Regions from separate parts of the Homo sapiens genome. Here region 1 is linked to region 2. The links come from fine-mapping of genetic effects on gene expression. A gene starts in region 2. The other region holds a variant in brackets. All regions are shown on one strand. Distances are from middle to middle. Region 1 has its middle 14 kb from the start of EGILA. Region 2 holds the start of RNASE6 (ribonuclease A family member 6).

Region 1 (5,380 bases), 60 kb before region 2:
GCGTAGTGGTACACGCCTGTAATCCCAGCTACTCGGAAGGCTGAGGCGGGAGAATTGCTCGAACCCGGGAGGTGGAGGTTGCAGTGAGTGAAGATCGCACCACTGCACTCCAGCCTGGGCAACAGAGCAAGACTCTGTCTCAAAAAAAAAAAAAATTTCTTAGCTTTAGTTTGGTAGGGTTTTCCCCTGGGACTATGGCCCACGACTCTGGAGGGGGCGGCACTTTCTTGACTTGGGTGTGATAGGTCCATCCTTTTTCTGCTGTCTGGACTGCGCTTTCAGTAGTTAGGAGCACTAGATAAGGTCCTTCCCAGGCCAGTTCCAGCTTTTCCTCCTTCTAGTTTTTGATGAGGACTTGATCCCCGGGCTGATTTCGATGTACTGGGAACTCCAGGGATGGTGCCTGTGCTAAAAGACCTTTAGTTCTAAGGGAAGAGAAAGTGGAAGATAAACCAAGTATATAATGTCTGAGAAACTGATCTTTTGTTTCGAAGGTGGAAATGTCAGCAGTGGAGTGTAAATAGGGCAACCCATATAGCATCTCATATGGGGATAGGCCAACATCTTTTTGAGGGGTGGTTCAGATTCCTAGCAAGGCAATGGGAAGGCATTTAGTCCATGGCAACTGAGTCTTTAAGACTAATTTGGTTAAGTGACTCTTCACGGTTTGATTTATTCTTTCTACTCTTCCCGATGAAGGTGGGTGCCAAGGAGTATGGTATTCCCACGTTATGTCTAGTGCTTGGGCTAATTTCTTAATGATATGTGCAGTGAAATGAGTTCCATTATTTGAATTAATATTTTCAATTTATTTGCCCAGATCCATTGGAGGAACCACTATCTATGACCGCTATAGTCTTATGAAATGTATTTCTGAAGTAATAAGACTTGAAAGCCAAAATTACTCCTTGATCCATGGGCTGCAGAACTGCAGAACGGATGTTGTGTGAGCAGGCATGGAAACTATGGAAATTAATATCTTTGAACATCTCCATCAGAGGCCTTAGGTAACCAAGTGCATTGCCAATCAGCAGTAGTATTTTGAAAGGAATCTTTTTTTTCTGAGCAGGTCTCAATAATGAGCTTAAAATATTCAGTAAACCATGATGTAAACAGATGTGCTGTCAATCAGGCTTTGTTGTTCCATTTATAGAGACAGGCAAAGTAGATTCAGCATAATTCCTAAGGGCCCTAGGATTTTCAAATGATACATGAGCACTGGCTTCAACCTGAAGTCTCCAGTGGCAGGTGCCCCCTGACAAGAGAGTTGGCCTGCCCTCTGAAGCTCTGAAACCAGGCACTGACTCCTCCTCTCTAGCTATGGGAGTCCCAGATGGCACCTTCTTCCACTATAAAGCTGTCTCATCTACACTGAAAATCTGTTGTTTAGTGTGGCCACCTTCATCAATGATCTTATCTAGAGCTTCTGGAGAACTTGCTGCAGCTTCTCCTCAGGACTTGCTGCTTCATCCTGCACTTTTATGTTATGGAGATGGCTTCTTTCCTTAAACCTCACGAACCAACCTGTGTTGGCTTACAACTTTTCTTCTGTAGCTTCCTCACCTCTCTCAGCTTTCAGAGAATTGAAGGGCCTGATCTGGTTTTGACTTTGGCATAAGAGAATGTTGTGGCTGGTTTGGTCTATCCGAACCACTGAAATTTTCCCCGTGTCAACAACAATAAGGCTGTTCTGCTTTCTTATCACTTGTGTGTTCACTAGAGCAGAACTTTTAATCTCCTTCAAGAACTTTTCCTTTGCATTCGCAACTTGACTAACTGGCTCAACAGCATTTGGCCTATCCTAGCTTTTGACACGCCTTCCTCACTAAGCTTAATCATTTCTAGATTTTTAAAGTAAGAGACATGTGACTCTTCCTTTCACTTGAACACATAGAGGTCATTGTAGGGTTACTAAATGGCTCAGGGAATAGGGAGTCCTAAAGACAGGAAGGTGGGGAAGCCGCCAATCAGTGGAGCAGTCAGAACACACACATTTATCAATCAAGTTTGCCATCTTCAGTTTGTGGCACCCCAAAATAATTACAATAGTAACATCAAAGATCACTAACCACAAATTACTGTCAGATATAGTCATAGAAGAAGTTTGAAATATTCTAATAATTACCAAAATGTGACACATGGAAGCACTAAATGCTGTTGAAAAAATGGCGCTGACAGATTTGCTCAATGCAGGGTTGCCATAAGCCTTCAACTTGTAAAAAACACAGTATCTACGAAGTGCTATAAAGGGAAACACAACAAAACGAGGTGTGCCTGCACAACCAATGCCCAACTGTGTGTACCGCCTGAAGGAAAATGTTTCAAAGGTATCACAACTTTTTAGTCTGGAAATCTGAACAATATTTTGGTTTTTCACAGTGAGCATGTGGAACTTATATAACCAAAAAAGTAAAGTTGTATTTGAATGCATGTGGGCTACAAGTAAAAAGGAAGATGAAATAACAGTTTTATAAAGCGGAAAGATTTATGGGTCTAACTCTGTGTCATATTTAGATTTTCTAATAAATGGGTATAGGAACAGAAGGAGAGACAGAGTTAGATAAAAGGTGTAGACGGTAGGCTTTGCTGCTTCGAGAACTTGGTGCTGATTAGAGGTGTGATTGCATTCATGGTAATAGGGATGAGTGTCACGAACTGCTGTGTGTTCTGCTGGTGAGCTTCACTGCAATACTGCACTAACCAGTGAGTGTAAGCCTGCAGCACAGCC[A/G]GGGACTGAGCACGTACATCAATGAGGTCAGGTTTCAATACTGATGGCACATCAGTTTCAATGTTGCACAATTTTTTTTTTTCTTTTTTGAGACGGAGTCTTGCTCTCTTGCCCAGGCTGGAGTGCAGTGGCACGTTCTCAGCTCACTGCAACCTCTCCCTCCCTGGTTGAAGTGATTCTCCTGCCTCAGCCTCCCGAATAGCTGGGACTACAGGCACGTGCCACCGTGCCCACCTAATTTTTTGTGTTTTTAGTAGAGACAGGGTTTCACCATGTTATCCAGGATGGTCTCAGTCTCCTGACCTTGTGATCCACACACCTCGGCCTCCCAAAGTGCTGGGATTACAGGCGTGAGCCACCGCACCTGGCTCAATGTTGTACAACTTTATCTGAGATCCATACAGAGTGACTTTGACCAAACTCTCCACAACTGTGAGGGCATCATTGAACCATGCAGCAAACACATCCCCAATAAAGTACCCGGCCAGGTGGCCCATGGCCTGCAGCAGGGAGCTCAAGTCTCTCAGGGAGCAGTGCAGCCACCAGCAGTCGTTCTCTGCCATGATGTTCAACCTGTGTCCTGACCCTGATGTAACTATAACTTGCTGTAATCCCAAATAAACTTCTAAATTGCCCTGAAGAACTGGGAACAGTGTGGACAACGTGTGCGTGGGCAGGAGCTCCATCACTTTGACCGCCACCTCCAAGCTCTGCCGTAAGTACCGCTGTCACTCCATCTGCTGATCGTCATCCAGAGTCTCGTCATCCAACTCCTCCAGCTGGCCTGGTTGTATCTGAACTGGATTTGATTCAACACCTCTGTGGGGAGGAGCACCAGGGCATCTTCGTACCTGTTGAGAACTGCTTCCTTGTCTTCAAGATGACTTTTAATTTTATTTGTCAGATAGTCCAAAAAGAGTGTCCAGTATCCAAACAAGAGAATTAACCTTCATGAGTAGGCTGATGAAATGTGTACTTGAACAAAAGTGTCAAAAACTCCACCACAGAGAACTGGGAGTAAGACTCGATTCTTCTTAGGTGAACACTCACAAAGAGCCAAAGAAAGTCAGTAAACTTCTCAATAAAGCTCTCATCGAGCTCTTCTAGCCTGCTCTTCACTGTGTGGGCATTGTTATCCTTGGTGATCTTCTGCAGGAGGTAGAAAGTCTGCTGGAACATAAGCAGTAAATACTCCTCGAACTCCATCGGCACACAGCTCTTGGAAATGAGTTCACTGATGCAGGGCATGGCCAGGACCCCCGGCCGGCTCCGCTCCTGAACCGAGACACAGTTCTGGCTGCTGCCGTTAACTGACGCCATCTTTCTGGCACGGATGTCACAGCCAAATCACGCAAAGTGGAAGGTGGTGGTAAGGAGGGATGGGGTGATGCCGGCAGACAGAGGAATACAACTGAAGAGATGGGCTAGGCACTCCAAGGCAAGGGAACAGATATACTCACTCACCACATCAAGGATGGGAATTGGCTGATTCAACAGTTTGGCTGAACTAGGACTCTGCCACAGGTTACTCAGTAAGTCACCACTTTCTCCTGTCGGGGAGGGTGGTGGAGTGGCAGCAGTAACACTGTGTTTGTCCCAGACAGTCCCCAAGATAGCGGTCAGCAGCCCAAGCACTGTCTGCACCTGGTCCAGTGGCAGCTTCTGCAACTCCTCCTTCCAAGCCACACTGAGGTCCTCGTGGGGACAAGCCAGCTCCTCTGAAGTTGTCTTCAACATGATCGGCCCAAGGGGGGTTGTCACAGGGGATTGGTTCAACTGCAAAATGTTAGTAAAAAAGTCATGGTAGAACATGGGCCGATCCTGACGTCCAATATCAACAATAACTTTGCAGAACTTGCTCTGGATAAAGTAAGGTAAGGTTTTATGGTGAGCCAAAAGGAGTTTGGGCAGTCAGCTGTGGATTTCCATCTCATCCTGAGATGGGACCCCAAGCCACATTTTATTGATCAGATTCTCAAAAACTGTTAAACTGTACATCATTACATAGCCATTCCTAGTGCTGGAGAGAAAGTACAGGAAGAATCTCCAGGCTCCTATTTGCTGGGCAATGTTATTAAGAAGCTCCTCTATCTCACGTTTTCTTTCATTGGTCGTACCATCGTGAAAAAGTTCTGTCATCAGCCTTTCCAATGCTCTGAGAGGGGCTTCTTCAGATGCCATGCTGGCCGGGGAGGGGGCGGCTCAGATGAGCTGGTTCTTGGGCTTTGGACACATCCTACTCGCCCAGTTCAGGTCATGGTCCCGGCAGACTAGGGAAGTCCCCTACCCATGCAAAGATAACCCCTTCCCCCCCGGGCCCCGAGGGGATCCTCTAAAAAGGGCAGGGCTGCCTGGGTCGCCTCATCGGGGGCCCCTGAGACAAGTCATCTAGACCCACCGGCCCCTCCACAAGGAAACTGAAAAAGTAGGAAATGGGGCTCGATTGCTGGCGAGGAGGGCAGCAGCTCGGGACCCCCGCCCGGCCCGAACCCCGCGCGGGGGAGGCTGCGGGCGCAGGCGGGGGCTCCCCGGCCTCCGCGGGCAGAGGTGGCGGCGGGCTCGGCCCGGAGGCTGAAGGGGCGGAGGCTGACGGGGCCTTGGCTGCGCTGCCGGGGCAGCCGGCTCAGGGGAGAGGCCCAGGGGCCCGCGCTG
Region 2 (5,380 bases):
AAAATTGCCTACATTTTCCCCATGTTCCTCTCCCCTATGAAGAGAATACATGAATTTCAACTATTTAGTCTTTCTTTGAGTCTCATAATTTGTATGGTTCCCATGATTATGCACAGTAATAAATTTGTATGCCTTTTTCTCCTGTTAATCTGTCTATTGTCAGTTCATTTCAGAAGTTTTGAACCTTCAGAGGGAGAGGAAAAATTGTCTTTGCCCCATACCATTCAGATGTTTTGCCCATTTTTCAACTAGGTTGTTGGTTTTCTTATGGTTGAGGTTTTTTGAGTTCTTTGTATATTTTGGATAATGTTCTTTTATCAGATATATCTTTTGCAAATATCTTCTCTCAGTCTCTGGCTTATCTTTTTATTCTCTTAATAGTATCTGTTGCAGAGCAGAAGTTTTCAATTTTAATGAAGTTCCACTTATCAATATTTTTCTTTCATGGATTGTGCTTTTGGTATTGTATCTAAAAAATCATTGCCAAACTCAAGGCTGCCTAGATTTTCTTCTATGTTATTTTCTAGAATTTTTGTAGTTTTGTATTTTGCATTAGGTCTATGGTCCATTTTGAATTAACATTTGTGCCAGGCGCGGTGGCTCACGCCTGTAATCCCAGCACTTTGGGAGGCCGAGGTGGGCGGATCACCTGAGGTCAGGAGTTCGAGGCCAGCCTCACCAACATGGTGAAACCCTGTCTCTACTAAAAATACAAAATTAGCTGGGTGTAGTGGTGCATGCCTGTAATCCCAACTACTCCGGAGGCTGAGGCAGGAGAATCACTTGAACCTGAGCGGCAGAGGTTGTGGTGAGCTAAGATCATGCCATTGCACTCCAGCCTGGGCAACAAAAGCGAAACTCCATCTCAAAAAAAAATTGTGAAAGATATAAAGTACAGGTCTATGAAAATGTATGAAGTCTAACCTATGAAAAGATTTATTTTTTGCATGTGTACATTCAGTTCTACTACCATTTGTTGAAAAGACTAACTTTTCTCAATTGAAAATTGATCCTTTGTCACAGATTAGTTCACTGTATTTGTGTGGGTCTACCTCTGGGCTTTCTACTTGGTTCCATTGACCTATTTGTCTATTTTTCACCAATAACACACTGTCTTAATTGCTGTAGCTTTATAGTAAGTTTTGAAGTTGGGTCACGTCAGTTTTCTGACTTTGTTCTTCTTTTTCTGCATTGTGTTGACTATTCTGAATCTTTTTTTTTTTTGAGACAGAGTCTCGCTCTGTCACCCAGGCTGGAGTGCAGTGGTGCGATCTCGGCTCACTGCAAGCTCCACCTCCCGGGTTCAAGCGATTCTCGTGCCTCAGCCTCCCAAGTAGCTGGTACTATAGGCGCCCGCCACCAGGCCTGGCTAATTTTTTGTATTTTTAGTAGAAACGGGGTTTCACTGTGTTAGCCAGGATGGTCTTGATCTCTTGACCTCGTGATCAGCCTGCCTCGGCCTCCCAAAGTGCTGGGATTACAGGCGTGAGCCACCGTGTCCAACCTGAATCTTTTACTTTTATATAAACTTCAGAGTCAGTTTGTCACTATCCACAAAATAATGTGCTGGGATATTGATTGAGATTGTGCTGAATCTATAGATCAAGTTGAGAGGAAATGACATCTTAACATATTGAGTATTCCTACTCATGTACATGGAATATCTGTGCTTCCTCAATTTCTTTCATTAGAGTTTTAAATTTTTCCTCATACCAATTTTTACATAATGTATTAGATTTACACCTAAGTATTTCACTTTCTTTGGTGCAATATAAATGGTATTGTGTTTTAAATATCAAATTGCAATTGTTCATTGCTGGTATATAAGAAAGCAACTGACTTTTGTATATTAACCTTGTATCCTGCAACCTTGCTATAAACAGACATTATGTTTATTCTGCAGACATTTGGAGCCATAAAAGCATGGGGCAAGAGTGTTGTACTATTATATCTTGTTCAAAAAAAGACTAATCTGGAAGTAATATGTAGAATGGATTGGAAGGAGAAAAAAACAAGGCAAGGAGTCCATGTGGGAGGCTTTTATGTGAGCCCTCCATAAGACAATGAGTTTCTGAATAAGGGTGTTGCAGTACCAGTGAAAAGGTAAGAACAGATTCAAGAGGCAAATATCCTAAATTCGGCCTTCTTCTTCAGGCTTACAGGTCTTTTCATACACAATTCTGTCTTTGGGAGGCGCTTAACACTCTCTTCACCTAACTTCTAATTATTCCTCAAAATTCAGTTCAGGTGTTGTGCCCTCCAACAATCCTTCCCCTCTACTATCTTCCCGTAGCCTCCTGCAGTGTCCTCCATCACACTGTAAGTGCTATTTATATTAATATAATCTACTTGTCTATATACTTACCTGCCTGTCTCTAATCTCTTTCATTAAATCATGAGCTCCTGGCAGATCACGAGGTCAGGAGATAGAGACCATCCTGGCTAACACAGTGAAACCCCGTCTCTACTAAAAATACAAAAAAATTAGCTGGGCGTGATGGCAGGCACCTGTAGTCCCAGCTACTCGGGAGGCTGAGGCAGGAGAATGGCATGAACCCAGGAGGTGGAGCTTGCAGTGAGCAAAGATCGCACCACTGCACTCCAGCCTGGGCGACAGAGCAAGACTCCGTCTCAAAAAAAAAAAAAAAAAAAACTCATGAGCTCCTGAATTTGTGTAGCCTAGTACCTGGCCCAATAAGTATATGCATAAATGAATAATGTATTCACTTCTGTTGTAGGAACTTACAACATTACCAAGTATGTGGCAGGCATTATATCATATTTATGTGACATATTTTCTCTTAAGAAACAGGAATCATAAAGCTTCAAAAAAAAACACTGAAGCCTCAGATGAGGCAGGAAGCACTCATTCCATATCAGGAAGTGATCAGTTCCTCAAAACTGTGAGTTTTCAGTCATGTTGTTTCTTTAAGTTGGTTTAGCCTTCCTGTATACATGTGATAATGATACTGTTTTAAAGAACAGGTGTGAAAGTCTAAGAGTTTAATCCAGACTCTGCACAAGAAGTTAATCTGCCAAACCCTAGGATTCTCCTTCTGAAAGCTCAGAATATTTCTTCCCCTTCCCTATACACACAGGGCTCGAAGGGTTAGAGAAGAAAGGCAGACAACAGCTTCTGAGCTTTGGACTAATCACAGCCTCTGTTCTCAGCAGGAGCCCCAACACTGAGACCAGGTAAGAAAGAAAGCCTCAGGGCTGGAGCGAGTAGAGCAGTAAAGACGGCTGGGAGGTAGTGGTCAGATAGAGGGTAAATATTTCAGGAGGGAAGAGGGAAGAAACTTTCTGATATGACAGCCATCAAATGCATGAGTACTTGTGAAAGAAAATGGGATATGCCAATCAAAGGAGAGGTCATATTTCTGTTTCCTGGGCTTCAGGTTCTTCATAGAATTGTGAGACTATGTGAGAAAGAAGATTTTAAAGGGAGCTGTAAAATCTTAAAAGGCAAAATAAAAATCTAAATAGTTATGATTAAAAATTTTGCTCTTATTGCTTCTCCTACTATAACTATCTTCTCTCTTTCTACACAGAAAAGATGGTGCTATGCTTTCCTCTTCTTTTACTGCTGCTGGTTCTATGGGGACCAGTGTGTCCACTTCATGCTTGGCCTAAGCGTCTCACCAAGGCTCACTGGTTTGAAATTCAGCATATACAGCCAAGTCCTCTCCAATGCAACAGGGCAATGAGTGGCATCAACAATTATACCCAGCACTGTAAGCATCAAAATACCTTTCTGCATGACTCTTTCCAGAATGTGGCTGCTGTCTGTGATTTGCTCAGCATTGTCTGCAAAAATCGTCGGCACAACTGCCACCAGAGCTCAAAGCCTGTCAACATGACTGACTGCAGACTCACTTCAGGAAAGTATCCCCAGTGCCGCTATAGTGCTGCTGCCCAGTACAAATTCTTCATTGTTGCCTGTGACCCCCCTCAGAAGAGCGATCCCCCCTACAAGTTGGTTCCTGTACACTTAGATAGTATTCTCTAAGGCATCCACTGCATTTCCTTTCATTTGACATAGCTTCTGTTACAATTGCATCCATGTTTTCTTTTCTTTTGTTGATTTTCTTGTTCCCGTAGAAGAAAGAAGAAAGGTGTTTGGAGAATTCGAGTGCCTAGGATGCCAGACCAGAGTTGAGACAAAAAGAAATAAGATTATTTTCTGCTTTGTAGTTCTGTACTTTTCGAGAGAAGGGAATAGGGAAGACAGCAAAGAAAGATTCAGATTTCTAACCCTGCAACTTTTGCCAAGCTTTATTGCCCTGTGTTCACAGCAATAAAACCACTTCCTGCTGCATTCTAATGAGTGTGTGTTTGAGATCCGCTTTCAAAGCATTGTTGACCGGTACTCAGAGGAACACTGTTTTGACTTTAAGTCCCTAGAAAACTTTTGAGGCCTCCCTGGGGCCCCACTTCCTTGCCCACAAGAAAGGACAGCGTTTGGGACTTTGGAGCATTTCTTCAAACTCTGCTCATGACTTTATATATTCCCCTGGAAACCATTGTCTATGCTTAATTGGAGGTAGTACTGATACCTCAAAGACAGTTGATGATAACTCACACATAGATTCTGTCACTGGCAACTGAAGGATCCTATGTCTTTTCTATTTGTTTCCGTTTTTAATCAGATAATGTTTTAAATATAAGGTGATAGTAGTAGTAATAGGGATAATAATCCATTGTAGTAACCTTAGGGTCAATCCTCCATTATTTATTGAAATGGATAAATAGAAAGCATAGATCAAGAAAAAAGCACTAGGCTTGTCGTGGTGGCTCACGCCTGTAATCCCAGCACTTTAGGAGGCTGAGGCAGGTGGATCGTCTGAGGTCAGGAGTTCAAGACCAGCCTGGCCAACATGGTGAAACGCTATCTCTACTAAAGATACAAAAAAAGTAGCTGGGCGTGGTGGCAGTGCCTGTAATCCCAGCTACTCGGGAGGCTGAGGCAGGAGAATCGCTTGAACCCAGGAGGTAGAAGTTGCAGTGAGCAAATATTGTGTCACTGCACTCCAGCCTGGGCAACAGAGTGAGACTCCCATCTCAAAAACAAAAAAAGAAAAAGAGAAAAGCACCAGGAGACCCAATGCAGTGGCTCACACCAGTAATCCCAGCACTTTGGGAGGCCGAGGCAGGCAGACGACTTGAGGCCAAGAGTTTGAGACCAGCCTGGCCAATGTGGTGAAACCCCATCTCTACTAAAAATACAAAAAATTAGCCAGACATGATGGCAGGAGCCTGTAATCCCAGCTAATCAGGAGCCTGAGGCAAGAGAATCGCTTGAACCTGGGAGGCAGAGGCTGTAGTGAGCCGAGATTGCACCACTGCACTCCAGCCTGGGTGACAGAGCGAAACTCCCGTC

The links. PIP is the estimated chance that this variant, and not a neighbour inherited with it, causes the effect.
Region 1: its variant is fine-mapped to the expression of RNASE6 in whole blood (TOPMed, PIP above 0.99).

What each region holds. Positions count from the first base shown.
Region 1 is chr14:20,718,220-20,723,599 of GRCh38, forward strand. It overlaps the pseudogene RANBP20P. Among named protein-coding and RNA genes, the nearest start is that of EGILA, 14 kb to the left of the region's middle. The variant A/G (reference allele first, on the strand shown) is at 2,729.
Region 2 is chr14:20,778,144-20,783,523 of GRCh38, forward strand. It overlaps RNASE6 (ribonuclease A family member 6), which reads left to right and starts at 3,125. Exons shown (of 2, transcript NM_005615.5): 1 at 3,125-3,195; 2 at 3,552-4,324. The coding sequence starts at 3,557. The coding sequence ends at 4,009. All of the region lies in intron 1 of LOC107984671 (a long non-coding RNA gene), which reads right to left. RefSeq lists an enhancer at 4,200-4,269.